Linked DNA regions of Homo sapiens: region 1 is linked to region 2. Evidence: fine-mapped expression QTL. A gene starts in region 2. The other region holds a variant in brackets. All regions are shown on one strand. Distances are from middle to middle.

Region 1 (8,329 bases), 87 kb before region 2:
AAGACCAGCACATGTCCAGGCTCTTCTATTTCTCTGTTACTTCTGTTGCTCTGGTTCCTGCCCTGCAGAGGGGGTGGCCATGACCCCGCTACCCTTCATCCAGCCCTCCAAGATACCCATTAGCCTGCTCCTCTTAGGCCTGATGTGAAAAGTCTGAGATGTAAAAAAAAAACAAGACTGTAACCCTTAAAAAATGTGCACACTCTGCTTCTCTTTTTCAAAGATTTTGGCAAGAATAACATGAGTTTCCATGGGACAAATCACAAGCCTTTTTCTTTTTTTTTTCCCCTCAGCCCCTAACTCATTTCAATTCAATGCAACAGAAATGGACTTGGCTAGGCACCAGCACTGTCCTAGGCCCTAGCAGGGAGCTGCGAGGTGGGTGTCCATGAACCTGAGCAGTTCAGCCCCCGATGATGGGAAGAGCAGCCATGCACAGAATGCAAATGCTGGGTGCTAACGCTGCTTGCATTGGGGTATACTTCTTTCACTCGGTAGCTTGGAGATGACCTCAATGTTAGGATGAGGCTCTACGAGGCAAAGGCTCCCAGGCCAACCATGGGCTCCTCGGAGGGCAGAGTCACAGAGCACCTGCAGCCACAGAGTTCTCCCTTCTCCATTGCTGCTTCTCGTGCTAGGAGCCAGGTTTGTGTTCCCAGGAGACACAGTGGCCGTGGGGCTCCATGTCTCTGAACTGCTCAACCTCCCTAGCAGCCCACACTGGGTAGAACCAACTTGCAGCAAGCCTGTATTCTCCTGACCAGCTGAGGCATAGGCTTCTCTCTCCCTGGGAAGACAGCATCCCATTTCTTTATCTGAGGTGTCTGCTCTTAACTGGGCTCAAGCCATCATAGTTGCCTTTCCTGCTGCAATTGCAGGAAACACTTTGTAGGTGGGTGCTTCTTTCTCTAAGGCACTCGAAGTCCCCCAAACCTTCTCTTGTTCACCACTGTGAGTAGGTCACAGCACTATTCTCCCTAATTAACTGGGGCAGAGGAGGAAGGCCAGGAGATTGCTGCTCTGAGTTTTGCCATGCACTATCAGCCAGATTGACAGGAGCACATGGGTACGCACCTCCCGGGGCTGGGTCTCATTCATGAGTTCACAATACACAGAGGCCTCCTGCTGTGACCAAGTGCATTTTCAGCATGGGGAAAATGGCTGGCACATAGTAGGTGCTCAAAAATGTTGCCGGATGAAGGAACTGGTGGCATGCTTGCTCAGTTTTGACAAAATAGCTCTCCAGAGCCTCCAGATATACAGGTCACTGTTGCTCCAGAGCATGAAAATGCTGTGATCCTCTTTCTCTTGCCTCTGCAAGGGGAGCCAGAGGACTCTCTGACCCTGAAAGAGGCGGCCACAGCCCCTGCTGAGGGGAAGAGGGAAGAGCATGTGAATGCAAAGAGGACTGCAGAGCCTGCTGCAGCTGTAGCCACTCGCTCGGAGTGGGAAGTCCAGGCCACCCGAGGGCAGCAGCTTGTCCTCCTCTGCCCTCAGAGGCTGTGGTCATTGAATGAGTCTGGATCTTCTCCCTGGGTTGGGGGAAGGAATCCAGGTGACCCCTCAAAGTGTCTTTCAATGTGTGAATTGGAGAGCTAAGTTCCAGGTGGCTTCTGCTGGGGCTACCAGTAGGAGGAAAAAGGAGAAATCTAGACACAGATAAAAAGCATTCTGCTTCCTCTGTGCCCTGGACCTCCAGATCACCACCAGGACTCTGTCCCAGGACAGCAAGGTGGACCCTGAAATTCCCTGAGCATCGTTACCAGAGAGGTGAGGGGGGCACAGAGCAGAACCATGGAGCCTCCAGACAGAATGCACGCCAGTGGTGCCCCTTGAGGCAGTGTACACAGCAAGCTGTGTAGATCCCTTCACCAATACTGCCACCTAGGAGCTGTGTTCCAGAGAAGCAGGTTCCAGAGGGAAGCACATTTTGCCTAGCCACAGATCTACCAGGATGCATAAAGGTTGGGAGAAGGTTACTAGCTCTTCACTCTCCCCATCCCCAAGTCAGAGAGGACGAGGGCCTGCTGAGTAAACCTGGTTGATCCACAGGGTAAAGACTGGCCCAGCTTCACGGAGAGCAGGAAGTAATTGTCCTCTGTAGGGCTGGGCCACAAGTTAGCCATGCGACCTGAGCAAACCACTTCTCAGAAACCTCATTGATGGCATCAGGAAATGCTTATGTGCCAGTCTGCTCTGGTAATTCCATAACATTTAGTGCGGCATGCGACCCATCCACAAAGACCCCACCTATGACAGGCAGCCGCTTTGGAGGTTTGAAACTCATTGGCACTAGACAAATACATTTTGAATGAGCCAAAAGAAGAATGACTTATTATTTTAGTTATTAAAAATAAAGTGATGCTCATCCTCAGGGACTTTTTAGATTGTTCATTCATGGTAAGCATCACCCAAGGGCTGGTTCTCTCTCCTCCATGCCTCAATTGTGTAACCTCATAATTTTAGAATGTTTTGGCTAAAGGAAACCTCATTCAAGCCCTCCTGTTCAGTGCATGCCCAGAGAGGGCAGGCGCTGGGTCTAAAGTCACACAGTGGCCCAGCAGAGACCAGAGCTTAGTCCTGTGGAGTCTAGAGGCACAATGCTTATTTGTCACATTTCTTCTTCGTCTTTTTCTATCTCCCTGTATTACTACTCATACCTTCTAACCTCCACTGAAATGGTCTTTCCTCTGCCTTTCAAAAAGCCTGAGAATGGAAAAACATAAAGAGAAAGAAAAATGAAAAGATGGAGAGGGAATCAAGTTCACATTTCACATGAGAAGATGTGCCATCCGATTTCAGATCACAGTCCTCGAAAGGTGAGAACTGCGTTTTCTCTTTGTTCCAGGCTGCAGTGACTGCACCATGGATATGAGAGTGAATGCTTGTCAGGCCATCAGTTGGTGTTTTCCCCACATCGCATGTGTGCACAGGTACATACCTGTGAGGCACATGGCCAGGGAGGCCACCTGTGCTTCTTCCCCAGAGAGAGACCTTCAGACCACCCTCCATGTAAGCAAAGGGTATGTGGTGATTACAGAAAGGGATGGGCTAGGCCTCCAAGAGCATTTAGTAAGACTCCATTACAAACAGATTTTAGGAGGATGAAGCCCAGAGAGGTGAAGACACTTGTCTAAAGTCACAGAGGAAGTTAGTTCCTGTCTGAGGACTAGAACTCAGCTTTTCAGACTTCAAGTCCTGCGGTTGGGTGGCAAGGGGGAAGTGGGGATGGTTAATGGGTACAAAAAATAGTTAGAAAGAATGAGTAAGATCCAGTATTTGATACCACAACAGAGTGACTGTAGTCAATATTAATTCAATTGTACATTTAAAAATAACTAAAATAGTATAATTAGATTGTTTGTAACACAAAGGGTAAATGCCTGAGGTGATGGATGCCCCATTTTACCCTGACCTGTGACCACGACGCATTGTATACCTTCATCAAGTGCACTCCATAAACATATACACCAACTATGTACACACAAAAATAAAAAAATAAAAATAAATCTATACGTGGTATTACACACACACATGCACGCATGCACAGAGGACCCCTATTCCCATGTGAACAAAGACTCACAGCAGTCAAGCCCAGCAAGATGCACTCTCTGTAGCGGGAACTGAATGACCCTAAGGGAGGGCACCTGTCCAAAGGTAGGGCCCATACCTGAAACCCATCAATTCAATCACATACAGTGAGGCACGGCCAAGACCTGCAAGATATCAATGTATTTAAAAGACTCATCTTTACATTTGCAGGAGGCTGGGCAGTCTGAGGTCTCCTAAACAAGAAAGTGGGCAGAAAGAAGAGAGGGAGAGGTCCTGAAGATCAATTTTGCTGCCTTCGTAACTCCACGGAGGGTGGGGATCACGGTCTTCCCAACCCTACTCCTTCCTTCTAGAGCAACTAGAGAGACAGGGAAATTCC[T/C]GCCTTTAGAGATCTGCGGGAGGAGCTGAGGGCAATGAGATGATGCTGCTGTGGCTGCTCCTTGGCATTTGTTTTCTGTTCACGAATCAACTTCTCTCAGTCCCCTGAGGAAGGGTGGATTTAGGGGGAAGGACACGGAGTCTCTCGGAATCTTTTGCATCCAGGGATGTGAGTGGGTTTTTATATTTAGTAGATGACTCACCTCCAAGCACATTAGTCACTGCCTCCCAGCTCCATTCTGGCAGGCTGGGTGCTGGGGATCGCAGTGGGGTGAGATCAGACAGGAGATTGGGAGAAAGAGCAAGAGAGCTCAAGGGAGGCAAGAGACTGGGAGACTAATGCCAGAGGAAGTAAGATTAGCGCCCCGAAGCAGAAGGCTCAGGGAAAGAGGGCGGCCAAGTCATGCTCAGCAGAGAAGTTCCAGGGAAGTTCTGGCTCAGCCTTGCCCCAAGCACCTCACCATGGGGGAAAGAGAGAAGGGCAAGATCCAGAGTCCCTGGCTCAGCCGCCTATAAGCCCTCCAAGGGTCCCCTCTTGGCAATGTAGGCAGCTCACCAGCCTGGACCCCATCCATTGGCCGCCTCTGGCCATGACAGATGGCCAGGGCAGGGGTTTTCAGAGAGTGCCACCAGAACATGCTGGGGCCAGGAGCCTGGGCAGGGCAGAAAAAGAGAGCATCCGTGAAAGATGCTCTGTGTCATGAGAGAGGAAGGACCACAGATGAAGGAAGAACATATGGGGTCTAAAGCAAAGGCTCTCAAGTGTGGTCCCTGGGCCCCCTGGGTCAGAAGACCCCGGAGAGCATATGAGCAATGAAGACTCTAGCCCCATTCCAAGTCTGCACCCTCCTCTGGGTGGGTCCAAAGAACCAGCTCTTCACTGGGCCCCAGGGAATTCTCAGGCACATTCGGATGCAAAGCCCTCAGGTCTGGAGCAGGAAGGCTGCATCCCAGCGCTTCAATTCCTACACAGTGTGGGATAAAGGCCATTGGTACGCTTGACTGCGCCTCAGTTTACCATTCAAAAATGAGATGCCTACTTCAAGAATTGTTCTAATTTAAAAACAAACAAAAAAACAAACAAACAAAAAACAGGAAAGGGATGTAAAGTTGGCTTGTATTTTATACTTCTTAACTGGGTCAGAACTGGGTCAGGTCATAGTAGAGGAACACCACACCTGGCTGGATTCCACAGCTCTGGAAAGGACAAAGGTCACCCTGAAGCAAGCTCCTTTCTTTCTCACTGACCTGCAAGGTGGGTGCCATTACCCAATGGTCAAGGAGAGGAGATAGAGGCCGAGAGGTAAGTGACTTGTCCATGACTGGATGGCCAACACCAACAGCAGGACTTGAAGTCAAGCCCAGAGCCCGTGGTTTTGTTTTGTGTTTTCACTTCTCCAAACTGTCACTTCACTTTGTCACCAGGATCCTCTGGGTCGCTTAATAGACCTACCAGCTTCTTGCCAATACAGTCAGGATATTGATTTCTCCCTCATACCTTTCCCCTCTTCCTCCTCCCTTTTCTCTATTGTGGCCCTAATTTTTAAAAGGCTGCATTTGGCTCTCCGTATGGAATTCTTCTCCCCTTGATTTTTGGCCCATTTCCTTCCATTCTAGTGCCTGTGTCGTCCAAAGCTATATGAAGCTCATCTTGGAGGACCCTGGCTCACCCTTTCTCCACTTCCCTGCCACCCGCTGTACACTGTCATGCCCAGTCGGCCCACAGGTGTTTGAGTCTGTTTTCCCTGAAGGTTGGTTAGGGTTCTTGTTGACATTCTTGGCTTTCCTGGACTCTGGGCTCTCTGAGGACAGGGATTGTGTCTTCTCATTTTTCTGCCTCCCTCATAACTTAGTGTAAAGCTTTATACCTGGAGAAATCATCCTTGTTGGCAGGTAGCTTAGCCACAAAAAGGAGCCTCCCAGAAGTGCCCCAGCAAAGGCCTGCACCTCTCACCTTGAGAAGCAGAAAGCAACTTCTGCCCCTTGACTTGCCTGCAAGTCTGCAAGTCTTTGCTGCCTCCTGCTCTCCATAGAGGTGACTTGGTTGAGGAACTTGCCAGGCCAGAGACCTGGGATGCATTGCATGCTACAGGCAAGACGCTCCAATAGAAATTGAAAAGCACAGTCCCTGCCCTCATGCAAGTGTATGCAATTCTCTCTCCTCTCTCTCTCTCTCTCTCTCAATGCTCAACTTCCCACCAATCAAACTGCAAGCTCCTTGACAACAGAGCTATGGGTTTCCTTTTAATCCATTCCTGAGCCCGGAACCCCCATCCCAGCACACACATTCTGCTGGTGCTGAGTACTCCGCTAGCCCGTTTCCATCCCCTCCCACATCTGCTTCATGCTTATTTGCTTATGTCTCTTGAGGGTGCATTTGGCTCTCCATATGGAATTCTCCTCCCCTTGATTCTTGGTCCATTGACCTTTATTCTGGTGCCCATGTTGTCCAAGGCTACATGAAGCTCATCTTGGAGGACCTGGGCCCATGCCTTCTCTACTGCCTCACCACCTGCTGTACACTGCCATGCCTGATCAGCCCACAGGCACCTGAGTCTGTTTTCCCTGAAGCTTGGTTAGAGTTCTTGCTGACATTCTTGGTTTTCCTGGACTCTGGGCTCTCTGAGGACAGGGATTGTGTCTTCTCATTTGTGTCATCTCCCTTGAGATAAGCAAATAAGCATGAAGCAGATGTGGGAGGGGATGGAAAGGGGCTAGTGGAGTCCTTAGAGAACCCCGTTTCACATGCCTGGTCTCTAGCCTCAGTTATTCTATCTAGAAAATGGAGAAAATAGCATCGACATCACACAAACAGTTGGGAGGGTTAAATGAGATAACCTCTATTGAAAGTGACTAACAAAGTGCTGGCTCATAAAACACATACATAAAATGGCAGCATAAGCTAAATTAACTCTGTGCTAGTGCAAGCTGTGCACATATCAGAAAATGAAGGGGGTGCATTAAAAATAACAACTCCCCACCATGTGCCAGACACCATACTAGATGCTTTGGCCATGTCACCCTGTAACATTCACATCCACCCTGTTTCACAGAAGAAGAAGTTGAAGCTCAGAGAGGTCAAGTTACCCACCAAAAGTCACACAGCTAGCAAGTGGCCAAGCCCTGCTCCAAAAGGATGCTTGTCTTTCCCCAAAGTTGGAGCTCATTCCTTTAAGCAACAGTGCTTCAGACGGTCTGGGAGATGTAGAGGAGATAAGATTATTTTCAAATAGATTTTGAAGAAGGCTGTGGGAGGCTAAAGGAGGGAAGACAGACAGCAGAGCTATAATGCAGCTTTGGGCACTCTTTAAGAATGGGTGGCTTCACTGGAGAGAGGAGGCTGAGCTGTGCACCACTGTCACAAGCAAAGCAGAAACCATGTCAAGGCTGAGTGTATCCCGCAGGTGATCAGGAGAGGACTCTAATAGTAACAAGCACTGATTGTGCCCAGGAAGGCCCGTGGATGTCAGAGATTCCACTGGCTGGGAGCCTAGGCAGGGTGAAGTCCTGGGGGAAGCAAGAGCGATGGCAGTGGTTCAGCCTGTACCATGTGCACATGTGAGTGTGAACTGTGTGCTCCAGTTCAGGTAGCTATTTAATGTCAAGTGAAGTCCTTGGGACAAAAGGCATCACGACTCTTCTTTCTAACAAACACAAGTTCCTTGGATCCAAGATTTAAGAGGGAAAGAATAATCCCTCCTCCCCCCAAATCTCTCTCAACTTCCTTAAAAACTCCTTCCCCAGTCGGGTGTGGTGGCTCACGCCTGTAATCCCAGCACTTTGGGAGGCTGAGGTGGGTGGATTACCTGAGATCAGGAGATCGAGACCATCCTGGCCAACATGTTGAAACCCCGTCTCTACTAAAAAATTCGAAAACTAGCCAGGCGTGGTGGCAGGCTCCTGTAGTCCCAGCTACTCAGGAGGCTGAGGCAGGAGAATAGCTTAAACCCAGGAGGCGGAGGCTGCAGTGAGCCAAGACGGTGCCACTGGACTCCAGCCTGGTGAAAGAGCAAGACTCTGTCTCAAAAATAAAAACAAACAAAACAAACAACAACGAAAAAAACTCCTTCCCCAGGTTTAAAAATTGTTGCTGCTGGAAGACCTAGCACATCCAGTTGGGATTTCTCCTACTGAAATTAATGTCATGAAACACACAAGGAGAAAACAGGTTCCCAGCTAACTCCTGGTCTATAGTCTCCAGGAGCTTGGCCAGCTGATCACCGGGCACTGGCAGTTACTGCCTGATAAGAACAGTGAATTTTTTCACGATGCCTCTTGGCATTCCCCAACAGACTCTGGGGTCCCCTAGAGAAGCTGGGGACACAGTGCTTCTCTGTGATCTCCAATGTGCCCAGCAGAGCACTTGGCATGTAGTAGGCATTTAATTATATTTATTGAG
Region 2 (8,329 bases):
GGAAAGGTGCCAGGAGCACTACACTGGACCTGAGGAAGCCTTGTGTGTCCAAAGTGGCCCTCGATAGGAAACAAATTCCCAAAAAGTTTATCTTGGCTTTGGTGGAGAGAGGAAAAAACAAGTTCACAGTTCATGTCCAGTTCAAAGATGGGTCTCAGTTCACATCCAGCGTCAGGCTGTCAAAGGGACCAATGCTAGTAGATGGCCAGAGAGACAGCACCCTCCTGGGTCTCTCCTCTCCAGGGTTTAGGGTGGTGTGGTCTTCTCACAGTGGTGAAATGAGAGAGCGAGAATGGAAAAAGAAAAAGCAAAAGGTCTGTGCCCCAACCCTTCCCCACTTTTGCTACCTAACTTCTCAGCTGTGTTAAGGAGGCACTTTCTACAGTTCACTGTGGGTACAGGATAAAGGCACTAAGCAACTATTAAATCAATTGGTTTAGTTTCTTCAGGGAGCCTCAAGGGGAGGGCTGAAGTCTCTACAGACTTCAAAGAATGACTGCAAAGAAAAAAAAATCAGCTCTGCTTCGGATGCATATAATAGAGAAACATTTTCATTTACATCCTAAGAATGCACCAAAAAACATGCAGTATTGCACCTTTTTGTTTGTTTGTTTGTTTGCTTGTTTGTGTTGCTTGTGTTTGTCTTCAGCTAGAAAGAATACTTGTTCTTAGGTGTTGCTATATGTACTTTGATGACTTATTGAGTTTTTCACATGGCTTCCCTTTAAGGGATGGGCATATTGGTCCTCTCTCCGCCTATACCTGCACAAAAACCTGGTATTTCCCTGAGCAAAGGCAGGAAAATTGACTGAGTGCCCCCACCCCCACCCCCCATAATTTCTATTGGGCCTTTCACCCCACAGACTTGTAATTTTTATTACTTTTAAAATTTTTATTACTGAAATCATGCATTAATTAATTCAAGGTACATCTTAGTCAAATAGGCCATAATGCTGAATAAGAGAACATGCTTTGAGCTCCAAAAAGTTATTGTTCCCATCTGACTAACATATGCACTTAAATACAGTACTTTATTTACTAATAAAATAGTTAATAAATGGAGGAGTGCACTTTTGGTGAATGCAAATGAAAAAGGATCTATTTTTAGAAGAATCGATTTCAACTTAAGCTTATCCCCTATTGTCTGGGTTAACTTCTCAGCATGCGATTATAAAATAAATTGTATCAGATTCAAACATGCTTACATTTAACTTCATTTGTGCTCTCTTGCAATAAGGAGGCTAAGGTTTTACATCCAGTTCTGAAAGCCAGGGGTCGGAGTGCAGGCCTGGTGAGAAAAGACCTGTATTTGGCTCATCTGCAGTTGAGACCATTTAGCGGCACTGCAGAAGAATCAATTAATTTAATTCAGTTAACTTTTTCTTAGAGAATAATCTGGATTAGAAAGAGAATGGGCCCAGGGGGAAATCCCTACAGATCAGGACCAGTATCCAATTTATAAGGTGCTTTGTGAACCAGTCTTAAGTAATCGGAGTTTTCTTTTTTCACCTTGTAATATGCAGTTCAGTTGATCGAAATAAAAATATCTATTCATTGTCCATTTTGGCTGGTCTATCATGTTACATATAATACATCTGATGCACTGTCTTCAATGTGCTACGCAGTTTGCAAAGATGTTTTACTGGAGTCCCATGCGAATTTCAATTTCATATTTCTAAGTGATCATCTTGTTCTGAGTTTTTAAAAAAGTTAAAGAAACCAAAGCATTAAAAATGTTTCAGTTTGGGGAAGCATATGATTATTATTTTACCTAGACTAGTTCGTGGACTGAATCTTTTTAAGCCAGTTTTAGAAAATACTCTCTCTTTTCCCATTTTTTAATAAAAGGAAAATAGTTTATTTTGTCATGGATCTTGAAAGCTTCTGGTTCACCACCCCCAAAATCCTCAATGCAACAACGCATTGACAGTTAAATAGAGCATTCCAAGTCTACTTAGTAAAGTATCTACAAAGCGTGACATGAGTCACTAGGTTTTCTGTTTTGTTTTTTAAGTCTTTTGAGCTGCTAAGTGGGGCTTTTTTGTTTGCTTGCCTTTGTTTTTTAAACATCGGTCAGTAGCTTGCTCTTATTAACGCAGTTTTGGTTAGCAGTGGTGCAATTGGCAGTTCTGATATTGACCTGTCTATAATGGGCTATGCTATTATTCATATCCTCTTCGATCTCCATGTACTCAGACTTGCTCATAGTAGAGGAACTGCGGCGACTGAGGTCACTGTCAGAGGCTAAGTTAGGGGAACTGACGTGGAGCAACTGAGCCTGCTCTTCCCCCTCAGTTTCTCGGTGGTAGAAATAGTTGAAATTGGACACAATGACAGGTACGGGCAGGGCAATTGTTAGCACACCAGCGATGGCACACAAGGAGCCCACGATCTTGCCTCCAATTGTCACAGGGTACATGTCACCGTATCCTACAGTGGTCATGGACACCACCGCCCACCAGAAAGCATCGGGGATACTGGAGAAGTGCGACTCAGCTTCTTCCGCCTCGGCAAAGTACACTGCACTAGAAAACAGGATGACCCCGATGAAGAGGAAAAAGATGAGCAGCCCTAGCTCTCTCATACTAGCTTTGAGGGTCTGGCCCAGGATCTGGAGGCCCTTAGAGTGGCGGGAGAGCTTGAAGATTCTAAAAACCCTTACCAAGCGGATGACCCTGAGGATGGCCAGGGAGGTGGCCTGCTCGCCCTTCTGGTTTCCTTCCTGCTCAGCTATCTCGGTGCCCAGCGTGATGAAATAAGGAATGATGGCCACAATGTCTATGAAGTTCATGATGTTTTTGAAGAAGTCCGTCTTGCTGGGGCAGGCGAAGAAGCGCACCACCAGCTCGAAGGAGAACCAGATGATACACAGCGTTTCCACGATGAAGAAGGGGTCTGTGAAGATGTTGGAATTGTAGATGACCGTGGTGTTGTCGATGCGGTGGACGGTGCCCGTGAAGTCCTTGTCATCCTTCAGCTCGGGGAGCGTCTCCAGGCAAAAGATGACGATGGAGATGAGGATGACCATGACGGAGACGATGGCGATGACCCTGGCGGGCCCCGAGCTCTCGGGGTACTCGAAGAGCAGCCACACCTGGCGCTGGTACTCCTTCTCGGGCAGAGGGCGCTCCTCCTCCTTGATGAAGCCCTCGTCCTCCCGGAACTTCTCCATGGCCTCCTCGCCCAACTCGTAAAACTTGATCTCCTCGGAGAACATGTCCAGGGGCACGTTGACCGGCCTCCGCAGGCGGCCGCCGGACTGGTAGTAGTAGAGGATGGCGTCGAAGCTGGGCCGGTTGCGGTCGAAGAAGTACTCGTTCCTCAGGGGGTCGAAGTAGCGCATGCGTTTCTTAGGGTTGCCCAGCAGCGTGTTGGGGAACTGCGCCAGGGTCTTGAGCTGCGTCTCGAAGCGCAGCCCGGAGATGTTGATCACCACGCGCTCGCAGCACTCGTGGTCGTCGTGGTCGGCCTGCCGGGGGTAGCTGCCATCCTGGGGGTGGCCCGGGGCGGCCGAAGCCTCGTCCACGTTCTCCCCAGACATCACCGTCATGGTGGAAGCCGGGCGCGGGGGTGGGAGGCCAGGAGAGAGCCCGGGGTGGGAAGCAGCCAGGGACCAGGGGTGGGGGGGACCCAAGCGGCCCCCCCACCGGAGCGCGCGTCTCCCTCACGCCCAGGGGGAGGTGCTTCAACACGAGCAGGTCGGGAGATCTGCGACTTTGCCTCTCGCTGCCTTCCCCTCCACCCTGCCTTTCACTCAGTTTGGAATCCCCCTCGCCTGCGGGCCGGGTGCAGCTTTTTGCAGAGGGTTGGGTTTGGGTTTGGGGGTTTGTTGGTTTTCTGTTGTTGTTGTTTAGATATTTCTTCCTGATCCCAGGTGCCTTAACGCAGTGCCGTTCTAGCGGACTGGGCCATTGCTTCGGGGGTCGCCCTGGCCTCCCCTCCCCTCCGAGAGCCTTCCTAGGACCCGGTGCAGTGCCGGCTCGGCAGATCCCCACGCCTGCCACCCTCTCTGCTTCTCCTCGGCTCTCCCCCCTCCTACCCCTCTTCGCCTGCCGCCTTCTAAGCTCCCACCAGGGCGATCGATGCACGCTGCAGAGAAATAGAAAGTGATACGGGGGTAGAAAATCAGAAGCATTCAGATGGGACGGACCTACAGACACCGAAGAACACAGACCTCTAGCTTGAGAAAGCACTGGACGTTTGCTAGGGCTATCACACACACACGGACAGACGACACGCAGACACCCGGAAATCCAAGTTTGGGGCTCTTCCATCCCACTTTCCCCAATGCCCAACAGCCGATCTGTTTACAACTTCGTTAAACTAGAGATCGGAAAAGCGCCGAGAGACGCCGGGGGAAGCTCAGGGTCCCGGACAGCATCCCCGCACCCCCGGCCTCCCCCACCCGGTCCCCCCAACCCCCGCTTCTGCATCCCCGAGCTGGGGAACCCCCTACCTGGCCGGCTGGCTTGGCGCAGGGGCGGTGCTGAGTCAGCGGAGAGCCCGAGTGGGAATGCGGCAGGTCGTCTTTGCAGTGCCCTGGCGGGAGCCGCGGCGGCCGCCGCAGCAGCATCCGAGACGCGCCGGGCAAACTCGCCGCCCTGGTCCACTCGTCCGACGCCCCTCTCAGTTGGACAATCGCTTTACGGAGCAGCTACGGCGAAAATGTTCCTTCCCTACCCCCATTCTCACCGGTTGCCAGCAACCTGGAGACGCCGTCCTCTCTCCGGTGCAGGGAGTTCCGGAGGATGCGGGGCGGAAAAGCAAAATACCACCCTCTCTCGAAGCTCCGAGGCAAATGACGATAAACAGCACTCTCGCCCCCTCCTAACACTATGGGAGCCCTTGATTCGATCCCGAAGGAGGCGGGCGGGCGAGAGCCTGGATCTACATGGCTCTCCAGTTCCCTTCGCTCTCCGCACCCCAGCGCGGACCTCGCCAAGGCTACGCGGCGCGCCAGGAGCCCTTAGGAGCTTGGAGTGGAGCAGGGTGCGTGCGGCGGCGGGTCCGCTCGGTCCATTTCTGGGCGCTGCAAGATCAGCAGAAACCTGAGAAAGCGCCTGGAATACCGAGCAGCGATTGGCCCACCCGGGCGTGGGTTGGGGAGGGCGGGGGAGGGCAGGAGCGAGGAGGTGGATGGAAAATATGAGGGGGTGGTTTGGAAGAGAGCGGGGTTGTCATTCAGTTCCCACCCTTGCCAGCACAGCTTTTTCCTCTCCTACCAGAAAAGCCGACCGCTAACTCTACTTCCCCTGTGGCCCGCCGCCCCGCCCACGAACGGCCCCTAGCGGCTCGCGACCTTCCCCGGGAATTTCACATTGGAAATGGTCAGGTCCGACGCAATGCAGGCGGTGGTGTTTCTGGCAAAACTCCTCCGACGGGTTTGCTTTTGTGCAGTCCCACAGTAACCCTCTTCGATCGCACTGCTCTGCGCCCCATCCCGCTCCTCCCCCAAGAAGGCCCTTGCTCTCTGCGGGGCCCACCCAGCTTCCCCCGCCGGCTGGACTCGCAGAGCTGCAGACTTTGGGCAGAGCTGTGCAGATGAGGATCCCTGGGTTTGTTCCATGTAGTTTTACTGGGCGGCGGCGGTACTAAGAGCCTGTCCCTCTTTAACCTACGATGGGACTTGAAGTTTTCTTACGATCCGATTATTCTGAAATACAGGGAATGTGACTTGTGGGGGACCGAAGGCTTCGTGGGTTTGTGGGGTTGTCTGCCAACTTGGTGCTAATTGGGAATAATCTGAGAAGCAAGTCGCCTACTCACCTCCCACCCTATGTCCCTCCTCCCGCAGCCTTTTTCCCCAGCCTAGTGCCTCCACAGGGCCACTTTCAAAGCTTGCAATTTATTTGGAAAGGGTCCCCCGCAGAGGCGCATGGCAGCAGGAGCCGGGGGCGTGTGCCTTGCCCTGCGAGTGCGGCTGGAGCTGCGCCCCCAGAGGCGCTGCATCTCCGCGCCTGCAGCGCGAGAAAAGGCAGCAGGCAGCTTGGTACCTCCAGGGCTGCGGAGTCTCTAAGGAGGCTGCAAGAGCCCAGAGTCGCCGCTGATTGGCTCCTCCCGCGGCCTTGGGACCACCCTTCTCACCACCGTTGCCTCCCGCCTACACCACCCACCTCCTTAATCAAAGCCAATGATTGCATCCTTCCCGCTCTATTGTGGCTAGTGGAAAGCAGGGGCCCCTGCGGGATTGCCCAGGCAGTGCAACAGTCCCTGTCTGGAACTAGTTAAATCCTTCCTCCAGATTCAGACGCCAGCATTCCTTTCAGAAAAACAAAAGTGTATGTTCCCTCCCCTCCTTCAGATCCGTACCCCAGCTTTTCTTTCATGAACAATGAGTTCTCTTATACTCCTCCTTCCCATATTAAACTCTTCCCCTTTCCCACCTTCCACACGCATATCCCTCAATCTCAATAGCTCCAGGGATCCCTACCTTTCTGCACTGCTGTTCTAATGCAAATAAATATATTTTTTAAAAAAATTTAAAAATAAAAACAAAGATATAAATATGAAGCTCCCAGCTGAAGTACTGCCAAGTCTTTTGGTTTTGTTGCTGCTGCCACTGCTAGAACCCTACTGGGGATAACCCTACGAGACAAGGGTTTTCTGACCATATCCTAGCACTACTGAGCTTCCCTATTCTCCACTTTATCTGTCCTTATCTTGTACCTCCCTCTTCCTATAACCCATTGCCTTCCTTTAAATGTCCCTAAGACTGTCATCTTCCTAGCTTCTTGTGAATGCATGTGCCCTGACTCAGCATTAGGAGATTGCCTTACTACAAGGGATTCACAGATTGGATGAGATCCCAGGTTCCTAAATTCCGGGTTTTATTGGGGGGCATATTAGGAAATCTTCCACATCTCTGATAGATGTGTTTACAGCAGGACTGGACCTCCAAGGGACTGGAAGAAAATTGTGAGCTGGGAACTCAGCATTCTCCTCCTCCTCCTCCTTCTTCCTCTTCCTCTTCTTCCTCTTGTTCTTCTTTGAGACAGAGTGTAGTAGTGTAATCATAGCTCACCGCAACCTTGAAGTATTGGGCTCAAACAATCCTCCCACCTTAGCCTCTGGAGTAACTGGGAGGACAACAGGCACAAGCCATCACTCCTGGCTAACTGGAACTCAGCATTCTTGATGGAAGTCCTCCCTTGGTAAGGGTCTGAAGATATTTATTAATTCAACAAATATTTGCCCAGCCCCAGCTATGGGCCAGATGGTGCCCTTGCACTGGAATGGAGACATATAAGGTCCCAGGTCTCATGGAGCTCATATTCTGGTGGGAGATACAGACAATAAACATATACGTCATACATTATAGTGTTAGATAAAGAAAATTAAGAATCAGGCACAGCAAGTGACAAATATAGGTTTGCAGATAAGAAGGGCCTCTCTGCAGAAGTAACATTTGAACAAAAAACATCAAGAAGAGAGAGCAAGGAACAGGAAGATGAAAGGATGGGTGTAAGAGCAAAGGTCCCAAGGCAAGGACAGACTCAGCATATTCAGGAAACAAGAGAGCCAGTATGGCCAGAAAGAAGTCACTGAGAAAGAATGTCATCAAAGGTAGGTCAGAAAGGCAGGCAGAGCCCAGATCATGCAGGGCCTCTAAGGCTATGGTAAGAATAGTTCATTTCATTCTGAGTACAATGGGAACCTACTGGAGGATATGCATCAATATAGCAATATGATTTGCATTTCTTGGAGATTATTCTGGCTACTAGAAACAAGACACAAGGTTGGAGGTTACTAAGTAGCATAAGCAATGTTGGCTTAGATGAGGGAGACTGTGGTGAGCTTGTAAGGAGTTTTTGGAAGAGAATTACATTTTGAAATAGAGATGGCAGAATTTGGGATGTGAGGAAAGAAAAGTTTTAGGACTGTCTCCTAGGCTTGTGGCCTTAATAACCAGATAAATGGTAATATCATTTACTGCAGGAGTGTCCCAAACAGTTTCGCTCCTACCTAGATGTGAGTTCCTTGAAGTCTGAGATCTTCTGTGTCTTCTGAGATCTTCTGTGTTGGGCAGCTTAGGAGCTCCTTGAAGTCTGAGACCTTGTGTGTCTTAGTTGTCACTGTATTGGGCAGCGTAGGCCATCTCCTCAGATTCTCTCCAGCTCACCATTGTCTTGTCCAATGGCCACTTGCCCCACTGCAGGTGCTGCTGGAAAAGTCAACTCGATGGGTGGCAGAGTTCTGCCTCTTGAAGTTGACAGCACTGCAAGGAGTGGAATCTGGATTCCTCAAGACTGCAAAAAGGCCTAGGTGAGTAACACAAACCTAGGGGTGCATTAGCTCAATGGACCAAGAGGAGCTTGCCCAGTGGGAGATG

What was found.
Region 1: its variant is fine-mapped to the expression of KCNA1 in subcutaneous fat (GTEx, PIP 0.98).

Annotation. Positions count from the first base shown.
Region 1 is chr12:4,993,912-5,002,240 of GRCh38, reverse strand. No RefSeq gene overlaps it. Among named protein-coding and RNA genes, the nearest start is that of KCNA5, 46 kb to the left of the region's middle. The variant T/C (reference allele first, on the strand shown) is at 3,932.
Region 2 is chr12:4,906,600-4,914,928 of GRCh38, reverse strand. KCNA1 (potassium voltage-gated channel subfamily A member 1) reads right to left here and starts at 5,024. Exons shown (of 2, transcript NM_000217.3): 1 at 4,457-5,024; 2 at 1-4,089. The coding sequence starts at 3,550. The coding sequence ends at 2,063. RefSeq lists a silencer at 3,503-3,642 and enhancers at 5,643-6,399, 7,194-8,329.